2 separate regions of the Homo sapiens genome follow, and region 1 is linked to region 2. A link means that fine-mapping ties the variant in region 2 to the expression of a gene that starts in the linked region. Tissue or cell type: whole blood. Region 2 holds a variant in brackets; the other region holds the start of a gene. All regions are shown on one strand. Distances are from middle to middle.

What was found. PIP is the estimated chance that this variant, and not a neighbour inherited with it, causes the effect.
Region 1: it holds the start of DMXL2, and the variant in region 2 is fine-mapped to the expression of DMXL2 in whole blood (TOPMed, PIP 0.95).

The regions. Positions count from the first base shown.
Region 1 is chr15:51,617,854-51,625,960 of GRCh38, forward strand. DMXL2 (Dmx like 2) reads right to left here and starts at 4,918. Exons shown (of 44, transcript NM_001378457.1): 1 at 4,606-4,918. The coding sequence starts at 4,692. LOC105370816 (a long non-coding RNA gene) reads right to left here. Exons shown (of 5, transcript XR_932236.3): 4 at 7,322-7,433; 5 at 6,831-6,972. RefSeq lists an enhancer at 4,056-4,465 and a silencer at 4,836-5,055.
Region 2 is chr15:51,527,496-51,535,602 of GRCh38, forward strand. All of the region lies in intron 13 of DMXL2 (Dmx like 2), which reads right to left. Among named protein-coding and RNA genes, the nearest start is that of DMXL2, 91 kb to the right of the region's middle. The variant G/A (reference allele first, on the strand shown) is at 4,868.

The DNA of each region.
Region 1 (8,107 bases), 90 kb after region 2:
AGTCTTCTTGCTACAAGCAAGAAGGCTAATTAACAATCTACGCAGGGACATAAGAACTTATAAACCCTATATTCACTTACTGGTTGACACTAAGCCCAAGCCCACAAGGTTTTAAATGTATCCGTTTAAACAAACAAGAAGCTACACTCCAAGAACAAAAAGGCCAATTTCTCTTAGAAAACAAGTCCATTCTAAATTCTTGACTTCTGTCTTTCACTTTCCTCTCAGCACAGGTTAACACATTAATAACCAGCCAGTACAGAAGCATGTTTCTAACCAACCCCTTGATTCCCCTGGCCAAAAGTTCTCTTAGTCTTCCTGAATTCCCACTTAAATGCTGGTAATATTGCACAGCTGGCCTACTGTGGTTAGGTATGTGTCTTTTACTCTCGTATTAGACTACCAGGTTCCTACACTTCTTCAATAAACTCCCTGAAATCAAGACTATGTCTTGTAATTCTTTTTTTTTTTTTTTAATACCCACAAAGCTTAGCACACCTATGTGTTCAACATTTGCTAAATGTATAAACTGGTTGATCATTTTCAAGGTTTGGTGTTACCATAACTCTAGGACTGAAATTTTATTCTACAATAGAGTTAAGACATATCTAAATGCCATAAAAGAGGTTATACAACATTATTTTCTAATTTTTAAATGAATGGTTTTCCATTTATTTCCAACCTTTTGTTGGTATTTTAATTTAAAAAAAAAATTGAATGTCAGAATACCAGGTACGTTTTCCTGAAAAGCTACAGGTAATGTTTGCATATTATATTTTTTCAACATTCTAAGAGTGTCTGTTATTTAATGAAGAAGTCCTGTGATTAAAAAGTAACTTTTGCAAAGAAAACAGTCACTCAATAATTTATCCTTCGTATTATGCCATTCCTTTGCTTCTGTTGTTCTTATCTTTCCAAACCTTACTCTTCCATAAAACCTCTTCTTGTTTTCCCAACTACAATCTCTTCCATCTGCCTTATGTTATAATTATATAAATCATTTTAATCTCTGCCAGTATATTATAAATTCCCTAAGAGTGCAAATGACTTACTAATTTTTGTAAACTTTGATCAATGTGTTGAAATCATGTCACACTGGAATAATAGTAACTGCCCCTATACATCTCAAAATAGTCTGCAAGCCTTAAGGCCAAATGAATTTTTAATTTAAAAAATCATCACGTATGATCATTATTTCAATTAATATTTTAATATGTGCAGTAAAGTTTAAAAAATAGCCAAGGACTATCTTTCAGAAAAGTAATAACATAAATAATGAGAAATTTACAATATCTGTTGCATAAACCCTCAAAACATTCACTGAAGGGTAGTAAGAAATGTCTTAAAGGCAAAATAAAGTATAATAAAGCTCATACACGGGAGAAGATCATCTCTTTGAACTACCAGAGATTTGACTTATTGCAGGATAACATTTCGAAAACCTAGATCTTACACTGAAAAGAACAAAATTGTTCAAAAGGTGATGTTTTAAAATGTGATATCTACAGCTACATTTACGAAATCACAATCGAATGTTTAAGGAAACAGCTGTATACTGCCTAAACACAAGTGAAAAGCATCATAGCTTACGTGATACCACTAAAACCACAGACATCAGCTGAGATTGTCCACTACAGACTGCAGTACCATGTCAATATTGCACAAATTGGGACATCACGACATCAAGTAGTCATTCACAGCCAACCAATCACGCCACCCACCATGCACAGCAAAATATATAACACACATTTCTTTCAATTATTACACTGTCATAAACTCAAAATCCTTTTAGAACAATTCTGTTCTTCAAAGATGTATCAATTTTAGACTCTGAAATAAAGTATGTATTGTATTTTGAAAAGGTTCTCAGGCTACCATGAAACACAACATCAGCTAAGAATCATGAGTTAGTTGCAAGACAGTAGTTCCTTCTACACTATGTCTGGGAGGCCTTCCATCCATCCACTAACCCACCTACGCACCCACACACCCTCTCCAGAGCAGGCACTCTGATATTAAGAAGGAAATACTACCAAGAAAAGCCCACACAATGAGAAGTCACAAGACCTTCATTCCAAGTCCTGGCTGGTCCCCCTTTTAATCATCTGATCCAGAACTAAAGTTTCTTCATCTGATTGCTCTAAAATCAAGTGACAGGCTCCATGAAGAGGAGCTTGCTTTTTATTTTTACTATTATATTACTTTATTTTATTTTACTATTATTACTATTTATTATTCCTATATTTACAAACATAGGAACTTAAGTATTTGTTAGTTGATTATATATAGACTGCTTGAAAGCAGCTTGTTTTTTGTTTTGTTTTGTTTTGTTTTTCAATCTGTTTTTCACAAAGCCCAAGAGATCATTTCTAGTTCATGGCAAAATTAAAACTGGATCAGTGCGCTCAAAACTAAGGTAGTTAAATGAGATGGTGTGCAAAATGGGTTTGTATTTACATTTGTCAAAAGACCAAAATAACAGTGTCACAGGCAGGCATCCTAAACCACGTAAATTTTGAGTCGAATTTGGAAACCCAAAAGGACTGTCTTGTTGCAACATAAAAATGCAGTTTAGAGTAAGAAGATCAGTATGTAACAGAGGGGCCAAAGTGAGGAGTACATATAATTAAAAATAAAGTCAAAGATGGAGAATACTTGACAAGTTTACATTTCCTAACACAGCTATTAAAAACAATTACATATTCTTAAGCCAAGAGTAATATAGTAAAATGACACTTGAAGAAAATTATCCTAGCAGCGGTGTGGAGGATGAAGAAGTTATCGGACATGACAGTTTTGAAAGCTTTTATATTAATACCAATAAGATTGTAAAATAAGGTGGTGGTTAAGGATATGAAAAGGAGTAAATCTGGTAGACAGTGCAGAGTCAACTAGACTTCGTGAAACGCTGAATTAGGGAAGTGCAAGAAGATTTGAAAATGACTCTAAGCATCTGGTCACAAGTGGCCTACAGCATAACCACACCTGCACAGCACTAACAGTTCTTACACAGGCTTTTCCAGGCTGCATCTGAACCCGTTTATTTAGTTCTACATACCAGACCTGCCGTGAGACAGCACTCCACTTTAGATGGAAGCAGAAAACTACCACCACCATTCTAGCAGGAAAATATAACCAAAGATTCCAGCTTTGTTTCTTGATGAAAGAGGCCCACTCTTCTAACCCTGAGGAACTTCCTATCTGCACTACTGGGGAACAGGGAAATTTCTTCTCTCTATCCCCAAAAACCAAGATTCTCCACACACTTGAAGACAAAGCTCAGCTCTATATGAATATTTTAAGTCACATGTACATAAAACACAGATGACAAAAGGGGTCGTTCTAAACTGGAGCTAGGCCAAGTGGATTACACTAAAAAATTAAAATGGCTAAAAAGCAATCTTCTGGGGTTAATGTATCACAAAACGTCAAAAAATAAATTCTGTTCCAGAATGCACTGCTACATAATGATTCTGCAGTTTTGCTGAAGCTTTATTTTCCGCAGTTTTAAAAACACTGTTGGAAAGCAGACATCAAAGGGTTTTCCTTGTCTAAAAAGCATACCATTACGGAATTTCCAGTTTTATCAAGAAGAACAGTTTACAAAATATATTTAATAAAGGTCTGGCTGCCTACAGTTCCTTATAAGGAAGACCATGTATAAATTTCATTCTTTAAAAAAGAACTCAATTTATGGGAGTCTATCTATGAGTAAACGAAGCTCCAAGGCTTGGTTTAAACATTTCCACTCTCAAAAAGGACTGATGAGTCCAATCTCCTTGAGAAACATGTCTACTTCATCTAGCTTTTAAGGAGATTCTAAAACGTTATGTATACATACACTTTTCTCAAACAAGCACTGTTGTAAATTTTTCACATTGCCTTACTATATTAAAAAAAAGGCTACCTTACAGATTAAAATATTATCTAGGAGGATTACCAAACTACGACCTCCTGATAAATGAGACAGCTCTCCAAGCCACTGTGACTCTAACCTTTCCATTCTAAATCTTTCGGGCGCGGAGGATGAATTTTTCTATCTTTTTGTTGGAATTAAGATCCTGCATTATCAGGAGATACAGAGTCAGGCTTAAAGCCACAGACTCCAGCAGCTCCTCGCTGCCCTAGCACAGCGGGCAGGGGGAGCCAAGGCGCAGCATCGCCTCCACGCTCCGAGACCAACACCAAGTCTCTTCACCTCCACGCTCCGAGACCAACACCAAGTCTCTTCGCCTCCACGCCGAGAGCAGCTGCGAAACGGACGCTCTGGGGTTTCAGCCGCACCACCACTTTCCTCCACCGCAGACCGAAGGGCCGCCCTAGGAGGAGCCTTCTAGTCCAGTCACCTCAGGCCCGTTTGCTTGGGGTGGAGAGTGCGGTGGATTCCTAAGCCTTTCCCCTAACGGGTGATTTCCTACACCAGACGCAGGACCCACGGTCCCACGGGTCCCAGGGGGAACTAAACCCCAAGGCTGCAAAGGGGCCACGGGTGGGGCCCACCAACATCTCACAGCCTCCTGAGGAGGCGTGCGCCCTGGACAGGAGGTCCCTGCCCCCGCGTCTGGCCCCTGGTATCTTCCCCTAGGGCTCCCGGCCGCCGCTCACCGTGAAGGGGACATCCCCGACGCTGCCCACGGAGTAGCAGTTGTCTCCAGGGTTGACAGCTCCGGTGAGGACCTGATGCAGATGCATCTCCGGAGCCCGGGCTGGACAGAATGCGCGGGAGGTGCGACAAGCTCCGCGCCTGACCCTCCTCGGGCTGCGAGAGCCGTTTCCCTCTGTGCCTCCCTCGGAAACCCGCCCCGCGGAGGCTCTGGCTTAACTCCTCGCCCCCCTTTCGCCTTCCCTCCGCCTCGTCCCTGCCATGGGAGCTCCTCGACCGCCGCCGCCGCCCGGGTCGCCGCTCAGCTGCGGAAATGCCCGGATGTTCCCACTGCCTGCTGCACCGGCGCACAAATGCGGGAGGGCAAGGGTGCTTGTGAGGCGGGGGAGGGCACCGGGGGGAACGCGCGAGCCGGGAGCGTGCAGCAAGGGAGCGGGCCAGCGCGCGCGCCCACCGCGGGGGAGCGAGGTAGAGCCCTCCCCCCGCGGCAAAGCTCTCAGCTCAGTCTTTCTTCCCCCCATCACCCGCGTTTGCGCGTGCGCGCGCCGTGGTTTCCAGGGCAATTGCGCGCGCCACGCCGACCCGCCGTCCCGTGATTGCGCGCGCAGACGTGCGGGAGTTCCCTTGGAGCCTCCCGGGCTGTAGCCGCTGCGGACTGGGGCGGAGGTGGGGGCGGGGGCGAGTGGGGTGCAGGTCGCTCGGGGCCACGCAGCAGTCGGACGCCGGGGACGCGCCACGAGCCGGTTTTGCTGTGTTGAACGTATTCCAGAATACAGTGTGCAATGGTCAGTGCCGTTGACCTCAGAAGGACACCCGTCACCGGGAATTTCCACCTGGAGATATCTTAGATATCTTCAGTCTTTTCGAAAGTGCAGTACATAAGATATTTTATTTTACATAAACAATGTAGGCATCTTGCAACTATTTAGAGAAGCCATACTCCCCTGAAAGCTAATTATTTTGCTCCCACCTTTTGTCACGGTTATTCTAGACAGCAAAAAGCCGCCTTAGAGACGGGTGACTCCTTTCGACTTTTTTTCATGAGTAATTTCATGAATTAGCAGAATCGCCTGATTTTCCAAACTATCTGCTAAACTTTGAATGGTTGATAACAAGGATCATCAGCTCCCTGCCACAGGCCAATTCATGGCAAATGTTCTAACCCATACTATGCTTAAATCACAGGGTAAGGAAGTAGGGGACACCAAGACATAACTATCTGTAAAACCAGGCAGAACGCCAAAGGTGGTGTGATTGAGATATAAAAGTCTTTATGCACCACAGAAGAGGAAGAAGAATGTTGACTAAGGGCGTGGATAAGGCATTATGGAGACATAACCTGACATAAACGCTGAGTTTAATTTTGACAGGCTGAGATAGACAAGAAATGCTGCAAATACAGTACAGAAAATAGAGGGGGTGTTGAAGGTACAAAGATTAATGTTTGAGGCAGATGATTTATAGGGTAGGGAAAGTAAATAATACTTAGCAAGAGATCAAGGTATCCAAGTGGTCTAACTCTTGGCCTACCAAAACATATTATGGAGAGTCTTGAATGCTCCAAGAAGCCCAGATTTCACTCTGCATGCAGTGGGGGTATATCAGATGTTTCTGAGCAAAAATTTATATAATCAGAGCTGCTTTGGGAAGATGACTTTGTAGCATTTTGAAGCATAAAGGGAAGGGTGGGGAAGATTGGAGGCAAAGATCTGTCAGTCGTTGGTAATCTTTTCAGTAGAAAGTTGCAGGAGGAATGAAAAATAATACCTAATGACCTGCGGCATTCTCTCTCTTTCTCTCTCTCCCCCCTCCCTCCCCTTCCCTCCCCCCCCCTTCCTCCCTTCCCCCGCGCCATATCCAAGGGTTCCTTTTTGTTACTACTAGATTCTAGATGAGTCTCTTAATCTTTGACCTTCACTGCATTAGAAACCAAGTCAAAACTATCATCAAACAACAAATTGTACTCAGGTTTCCAAGAGTGTTACTAATTCACATTATTTAAACCATTTCACATTTGGCTCTTGTTTTACAGCATTCCATGAAGTTTTGGCCCATTCACACAGTTGTGAAGTTGTGAGCCTCTTTCTTCCTCTCGGTATCAAACTCAAAATCTGAAGCCTGTATCCACCTGTTCTCTTCCCTCATGAATCCTTTAAATGGCTTCTTGATAGCTGTATCTTAAGGTTGCAAATGACTAATTAAGTCTCCTGGAATTACAGCTGAGCCTTTTATTGTCCAATCTGATCAGTCAAAACTCACTCCAGACTAATATGGCAAGTTTCCTTGGTAGCCCACCAGGGCAGCTAGACCACACTTTTGACTGTCCACAATTTCATCTCTTCCTTGTTCATGCAAATTTTTTCATGGACCTAAAAACAAATTGGAAATTCTTTCTTCTAATTTTGGAAAGGGCTTTCTTTTAAAAATTAGAAAAAGTAGCAGTTTTGTATCATTAACAAAATATGCTAATCGAATTGTAAGATATAATTTATCATGTCCACAACTCTTTTTTTTTTCTTTTTGCTTTGATTTGAGATCCCAACACAACTCTTAATAGTACCTTTGGGGTTGGGTTTAATGGCCCATTGAATGTGTGCCATTAAATGTGGGACTTAGTTTCCCAGCAGTATCACCTACCGATGTGTACTAGTTATCAATTACTGTGCAATAAATTACCCCAAAATTTATCAGCCAAAAATAACAGTAGAGATTCATTACCTCACAGTTTCTGTGAATCAATAATTTAGTAGTAGCTTAGCAGGAAAGTTCTGGTTCAGAGTCTTTCATGAGATGGCAATCAAAATGTCAGCTACATGCTAAATAAAAGAAGCTGGACACAAAAGACCACATAATTCGTTTGTATGAAATCATTTGTATGAAATTTTCTGAAAAGACAAATCTACAGTCACAGAAAATAGGTTAGTGGTTGCCTGGGGCTGAAGGTGGAACTGAGAGTGACTGCTAATGGATATGAGGTTTCTTTTTGGCATGAGATAAACATTCTAAAATTAGATTGTGGTCATGGTTGGGCAGTTCTGTAAAATTACTAGAAATCATTGAATTGTATACTTGAAATTAGTGAATTGTATGGTAATTAAATTATACTTTCAATAAAGCTATCTAAAAAAGAAATAGCCAGGGATACAGTCATCTGAAGTCTTGACTGAAGTTAAAGGCCCTGCTTCCAAGATGGCAGGCTCTCATGGCTAGCAAGTTGAGCCTAATAGATAGATGGAGGCCTCAGTTCCTATGTGTTCCTCTCCATAGTGCTGTGTGAGTGTCCTCAAGACACGGCGGCTGACTGCTCCAGCAGCAAGTGATCCAAGAGAGAGACCAAGGTAGAAACTGCAATGTCTTTTATAAACTAGCCTTAGAAGTCACACGCCATCATTTCCACCATATTTTATTGGGTGCACAGGCCAGCTATAACTTAGTGTGGGAGACTATTTCCCAAGAAAGTGAGTGCCAGGAAGGGAGAGTCGTGAGCAGCCATTTTGGAGGTTG
Region 2 (8,107 bases):
AGGAGGGCAGATTGCCTGAGTTCAGGAGTTCAAGAACAGCCTGGGCAACACGGTGAAACCCTGTCTCTACTAAAATACAAAAAATTAGCTGGGCGTGGCAGTGTGCGAGTGAGCTACTCGGGAGGCTGAGGCAGGATAATTGCTTGCACCCAGGAGGCAGAGGTTGCAGTGAGCCGAGATGGTGCCACTGCACTCCACCCTGGGTGAAAGAGCGAGATTCTGCCTCCAAAAAAAAAAAAAAGAAGTCATCTGAAGGTACAAAACTCACTGGTAATAGTAAGTACACAGAAAAACACAGAATATTACACTGTAACTGTGGTGTGTAAATTGATCTTAAGTAGAAAGACTAAATGATGAATCAATCAAAAATAATAATTACAACTTTTCAAGATACAGATGGTACAAAAAGATACAAATAGTAACAACAAAAAGTTGTAGCAGGACAAAGTTAAGGAGTAGAGCCTTTATTAGTTTTCTTTTTGCTTGTTTATTTATGCAAACAGTGTTAAGTCATAATTAGCTTAAAATAATGGGTTGTAAGGTAATATTTGCAAGCTTCATGGTAACCTCAAATTAGAAAACATACAGTGAATACACCAAAAATAAAAAGCAAAAAACTAAATCACACCACCAGCAAAAGTCAACTTCACTAAAAGAAACACAGGAAGGAAATAAAGAAGGAAGACCACAAAACAACCAGAAACAAATAACAAAATGGCAGGAGTAAGTCCTTACTTACTAATTACTTGGACTAAATGGACTAAATTCTCCAATCAAAAGACATATAGTGGCTGAATGGGTAAACAAAATTCAATAATCTGTGGCCTGCAAAAAACACACTTCACACATAAAGACACACACAGGCTGAAAATAAAGAGGTGGGAAAAGATATTCCATGCCAATGGAAACCAAAAAAGAGCAGGAATAGCTATACTTATATCAGACAGATATACTGATATCAGTATCATTATTTTCTGATACTATGTATCAGACAAAATAGTTTTCAAGACAAAAACTGTAAGAAGAGACAAAGAAGGTCACTATATAATGCTGAAGGGGTCAATTCAGCAAGAGAATATAACAATTTTAAATGTATATGCACCCAACACTGGGGCACCCAGATATATCAAGCAAATATTAGAGTTACAGAAAGAGATAGACCCCAATAAAATCATAGCTTGAGACTTCGACATCACTCAGAATTGGACATATCTTCTAGACAGAAAATCAACAAAGAAACATCAGACTTAATCTGTACTATCAAAAACAATAGATATTTACAGAACATTTCATCCAACAGCTACAGAATATACATTCTTTTCCTCAGCACATGGATCATTCTCGAGGACAGACCATACGTTAGGTCACAAAACAAGTCTTAAAACATTTTAAGAAATGAAATAATATCAAGCATCTTCTCTGACCACATTGGAATAAAACTAGAAATCAATAACAAGGAATTTTGGAAACTATACGAACATATGGAAATTAAACAATATGCTCCTGAATGACAAGTGAGTCAATGAAGAAATTAAAAAGAAAATTGAAAAATTTCTTGAAACAAATGATAATGAAAACATGACATACCAAAATCTATGGGATACTGCAAAAGCAGTACTAAAAGAGGGAAGTTTATAGCTGTAAGTGCCTACATCAAAAAACAAGGAAGACTTCAAATAAACAACCTAACGATGACTCTTAAAGAACTAGAAAAGCAAGAGCATACCAAACCCAAAATTGGTAAAGGAAAAGAAATAATAAAGATCAGAGCATAAATTAAATTGAAACAAAGAAAATCATACAAAGATTAATAAAACAAAAAGTTAATTTTTTGAAAAGATAAAACAAAATTGACAAGTTTTTTCCCAGACTAAGAAAAAGAAAGAAAAGACCCAAATAAATAAAATCAGAGATGAAAAAAGGGATACTACAACTGATGCCAAAGAAATTGAAAGGATCAACAGTGGCTACTATGATCAACTATATGCCAATAAATTGCAAAATCTACAAGAAATGGACAAATTCTTAGACACATACAACCTATCAAGACTAAACCACAAAAGAAGTCCAAAACCTGAATAGATCAGTAAAACAAGTAACAAGATCAAAGCCATAATAAATAGTCTCTAAGTAAAGAAAAGCCCAGGACCCAATGGTTTTGCTGCTGAATGCTGCCAAACATATAAAAAGGAACGAATACCAATCCCACTAAAATTATTCTGAAAAATAGAGAAGGAAGGAATACTTTCAAACTCATTCTATGAGGCCGTATTACCTTGACACCAAAACCAAACAAAGACACATCAAAAAAAGAACACTACAGGTCAATAACTCTGATGAATATTGATGCAAAAATCCTAAACAAAACACTACCAAGTAAATTCAACAATATGATTAAAATGATTAAAAGATCATTTATCATAACAGGGACACAAGGATGGTTCAACACATACAAATCAATCAATGTGATACATTTCATCAACAGAATGAAGGACAACAGAATGAAGGACAAAAATTTTTTAGCATCAATTAATGCTAAAAAAGCATGATAAAATTCAACAGCCCTTCATGATGAAAACTCTAAAAAAAGTGGGTATAGAAGGAACATACCTTCTATACCCTAGTATCATGCCGAATGGGGAAAAACTGAAAGCCTTTCCTCTAAGATCTAGAACACAATAAGGATGCTCACTTTCACCACTGTTATTCAACGTAGTACGGAAAGTGCCAGCTCAGGCAATCAGACAAAAGAAAGATATAAAAGGCATCCAAATTGGAAAGGAAGAAGTCAAATTATCCTTGTTGGCAGAAAGCATGATCTTACATCTGGAAACACCTAAAGACTCCACCAAAAACCATTAGAATTGATAAATTCAGTAAAGTTCCAGGATATCAATCAACATACAAATACCAGTAGCATTTCTATAGGCCAACAGCAAAAAATCTGAAAAAGAAATTTTGAAAAAGTAATCTCAGCTGGGCACAGTGGCTCACCCCTGTAATCCCAGCACTTTGGGAGGCTGAGGCGAGCAGATCACGAGGTCAGGAGATCGAGACCATCCTGGCTAACACAATGAAACCCCATCTCTACTAAAAAAAAAAAAAAAAAATTAGCCGGGCATGGTGGCACATGCCTGTAGTCCCAGCTACTCTGGAGGCTGAGGCAGAAGAATCACTTGAACCTGGGAGGCAGCGGTTGCAGTGAGCTGAGATCACACCACTGCACTCCAGCCTGGGTGACAGAGACTCCGTCTCAAAAACAAACAAGCAAACAAAAAGTAATCTCATTTACAATAGCCATACATAATATTAAGAACCTAGGAATTCATGAAAGAAGTGAAAGATCTCTATAATGAAAACTGTAAAACACTGATGAAAGAAATTGAAGAGGACAAAAAAAATGGAAAGATATTCCATGCTCATGGATTGGAAGAACTGATATTGTTAAAATGTCCACACTACCCCAAGCAATCTACAGATTCAATGCAATCCCTATAAAAACACCACTGACATTCTTTATAGAAATTTTTTAAAGATTTAAAATTCATATGGAACCACAAAAGACCCAGAATAGCCAAAGCTATCCTAAGCAAAAAGAACAAAACTGGAAAAATCATATTATCTGACTTCAAATAATACTGCAGAGTTACAGTAATCAAAACAGCATGGTACTGGCATAAAAACACACACAGAGAACAATGGAACAGAAAAGAGAACCCAGACACAAATCCACACACCTACAGTGAACTCATTTTTGACAAAGGTGCCAAGAATATACAATGGAGAAAAGACAGTCTCTTCAATAAATGGTGCCAGGAAAACTGGATATCCATATGCAGAAGAATAAAACCAGACCCCTATCATTAACTGCATACAAAAATCAAATCAAAATGGATTAAAGATTTAAATCTAAGACCTCAAACTATGAAACTACTACAAGATAACATTGGGGAAACTTTCCAGGACATTGGTCTCAGCAAACATTTCCTGAGTAATATATGACAAGGACAGGAAACCAAAGCAAAAATGCACAAATGGGATCACATCAAGTTAAAAAGCATAGGATACAATCAGCAAGGTGAAGAGACAACCCACAGAATGAGAGAAAATATCTTCAAACTACTCATCTGAAACGGGATTAATAACCAGAATATATAAGAAGCTCAAACAACTCTACAGGAAAAAATCTAGTAATCTGATCAAAAAATGGGCAAAACATTTGAACAGATATTTCTTAAAAGAAGACATACAAATGGCAAACAGACATATGAAAAGGTGCCCAATATCACAGATCATCAGAGAAATGCAAATCAAAACTACAATAAGATATCATCTCACCCCAGTTAAAATGGCTTATATCCAAAAGACAGGCAATAACAAATGTTGGCATAGATGTGGAGAAAAGGGAACCCTCATATGCTATTGGTGGGAATGTAAATTAGTACAACCATGATAGAGAACAGTATGGAGGTTGCTCACAAAGCTAAAATAGACCTACCATACAATCCAGCAATTCCACTGCTGGGCACATACCCAAAAGAACGAAAATTGGTATACTGAAGAGGTATCTGCACTCCCATGTTTGTTGCAGCTCTGTTCAAAACAACCAAGATTTGGAGGCAACCTAAGTATCCATCAACAGATGAATGGATGAAGAAAAAAAAAATGTGGTACTTACATACGACAGAGTACTACTTGGCCAAAAAAAAAAATGAGATTCCGTCATTTTGCAGCAACAAGGATGGAACTGGAGGTCGTTATTTTAAGTGAAATAAGCCAGGCACAGAAATACAAGCGTTGCATGTCCTCACTTATTTATGGGAGCTAAAAATCAAAACAACTGGACCCATAGAGATAGAGTAGAAGG[G/A]TGATTACCAGAGGCTAGGAGGGGTCGTAAGGGATTGGCAGGGAGGTAGGGATGGTTAATGTGTACAAAAAAATAGTTAGAATTAATAAGACCTAGTATTTGATAGCACAACAGGGTGACTATAGTCAATAATTTAATTGCTCATTTAAAAATAACTAGAAGAGTGTAATTAGATCATTTGTAACACAAAGGATAAATGTATGCGGTGATAGATACCCCATTTTCCATTATTTGATTACTAAGAATTGCATGCCTATATCAAAACATTTCATGTACCCCACAAATATATACATCTACTATGTACCCACAAAAATTTTAAAAAAATTTTTTAAACCTGCAACTAACATTATATGTAATGATCAAAGACTGAATGCTTTTCCTCCAAAAATGGGAAGAAGGCAAGAACATCCAATCTCACTTCTTATTCAACATGGAGTTGGAAGTTTTAGTCACTGCAACAAAATAAGAAAAATAAAAGCCATACAGATTAGAAAGGAAGAGATAAAATTGTTCCCATTTATAATGAGATGATTATCTACATGGAAAAGTCCAAGAAATCTACCAAAAACACTCCTACACCTAATATATGCATTCAGCAATGTTACAGGATATAAGATAAACATACAAAATTCAATTGTATTTGTATATTCAATTGTATTTGTATATTCTGGCCATAACTACATGGACACCAACATTAAAAAGACAGCACCCTTTACAGTCAGTAGAATAAATGAAATACTTATGTATAAACCTAACAAAACATTCATAGGACATGCATGCTGAAGACCACAGGAGAGGGAGATTGGGGACACTATTGAAAGTTGTTTACTGTATATATTTAGAGATGGGGGGGTCTCACTATGTTGCCCAGGCTGGTCTTGAACTCATGGGGTCAAGCAATCTTCCCATCTCATTCCCAAAGTGCTTGGATTACAGGTGTGAGTCACCGTGCCTGGCTACATTATATTTTGAGTACTATATTATTATTTGAAGGTAGACTATGAGAGGTTAAAGATGCATATTATAAAACCTTGAGGAACCACCAAAAACAAAACACTGAGTATAATGGAGAACAAATAGAACCATAAGAAAACACAAAATCCCCCAAATCATGGAGAATGACATCAATAGCAAAAAACTAAAAACAGGCAAAAATTCCCATTTTCAAAAAGGAAAAGAACATACTTCTGCAGGGCAGACCAAGGAGCTTAATGTCTACCTAGTACAATGTTTTGGTCACCAAGTGATGTCAAGGTGTGCACATTACACCTATCATATATTAAAACAAATCACCTCATGTAACTTTGACTTTCTTCGTTGACTGCAGAAGATAGAAAGACTGTATTTTATTTCAGCAAAGTATATGGCAAGCTGTCTCACAGAAATCCTTGAAACAAGCTGGAAAACATTCCAAAAAATGAAAATGGAGAAAGATTTCAAATGTATACTGCTAGGCTCTTTCTTCAGACCTGCCTATTTATCATATTAATAACTGACTCAGATGGTGCAGGTATAACACTCTTCAAACAGGCTGGTGACATAGTCATAAAGCAAAAACAAATACATTAAATAACATAATCCAGATTCAAAAAGATACTGAGAGATTGGACTGTTTAGTTGTGCTTAGCAAGATGAAATGTAATAGGAAAAATAGGTCTACATTTGGACCCCAAATCCAAATGTACAAATACAGAATGGAGAAGACAAGGTTTAGCAGAGAGCAGGGAGGGGGAAAGACTTCGGGATATTGACAGTCAGCTCATGATGAGTCAATTACATACGAAGAATGTGGAGTGACTGTCAAAACATAAATGTATCTAATGAGAGAGGTCACAATATTGCTATGTTTTAGTCATCCTACAAGGCTCAGAGTACAGACAAACTGAAAACTGCTCAGAAGAGTAACCAGGGTCAAATGTAAAACAGATAAAGAAACTTGATAGGCACAGGGGGAGCAGATTTGGCCTGAGGTAGTAAGGTTCACAGGTTACAAGAAAGCTGTCTTTTAATATCTTGAGGTACTCTCATACGCAAGAAATATTAGATTTATTCTAAGTAGAACTAGCACTAGCAAGTAGAATGTACACAAAACAAATAGCGTTTCAATATGATTGTGTGAGCTATTCAAGGATAGAATGAGCTGCATTTAGAGTTGAGTCTCCCTCATCGATGGCCAGATGACAAATTGGCAGGAATGAAGCAGAGGGGAATAAAGCATCAGATGGCTGGTGAGACCAGGTGACCTTTAAAATATCTTCCAATTCTAGTTCTATGATTCTATTTTTCTAGACTTTCTCTATGTCAAACCTTAAGCTCCAATCCAAATGGTTTTCTCACTGTTTCTGGAACAAGCTTTACACATGTACTTTCCTGTATCTATACTTACTTCCAGGCAATTTTCTCACTCAGGCAAAGACAAAGAATTTATCTTTCTAAATCTTATCCACTCATCAAGAATGAACCCAAATATTGTCCTTAATAAAGAATTCTATGCCTACCTTAATCTGATCTCTCTCTCTCCTCTGAATAATGAAACACTTCTAGGGCCATCCTTTTGGCAATTAATTACATACCACCCTTAGACTCCTCTTCTTATGTCTTAAACTGCTACTTAACTTTTTATTAATAAGCTCTCTCTTCAGCTAAATTAAAAGCTCCTTAAAGGTAGGTCTGAAACTTATATTTTGTATTCCCTCTACATCTAGGAGAACATAGTAGATGCTCAAAAATAGTCATTGGTTTTCAATACTGGAAACATTTTTATTAGAATAGTTGTTTTTATAGGTAAATGGAAAATCTACTGTTCAACTCTAGATACTAACATATATGACTTCCAGCTCAGATACAGAACTATCAGAATGAGATGCTGCCACCCACTGATAACAAATTCTAACCAGAGAATTTTTTAAAATGGTGAATCAAGCTTGAAAAAGTTCCAATTTTCCAACCTAAACATACAGCTTGGTAAAGATGCCTTAAAACTTCTTTTAAGCAAAGTAAGACTAACAGAACCAAACTAGAGAGTAAAATATGTTACAAACAAATAATATTTTAGAAAAAAATCCTTTTTATTTCTTTTCATGTAAAATGTATTAATGTGTGGTATGTACACTAAAATTTTGATTCATGTACCTTGGAACACAGCTTAGGAAAAAATAAATGTGTCATATATATGTCATATGCAGCCCAGAACATATACTTACTCCCTAAACAGCAACTAACAAACACAGGTCCTAGACA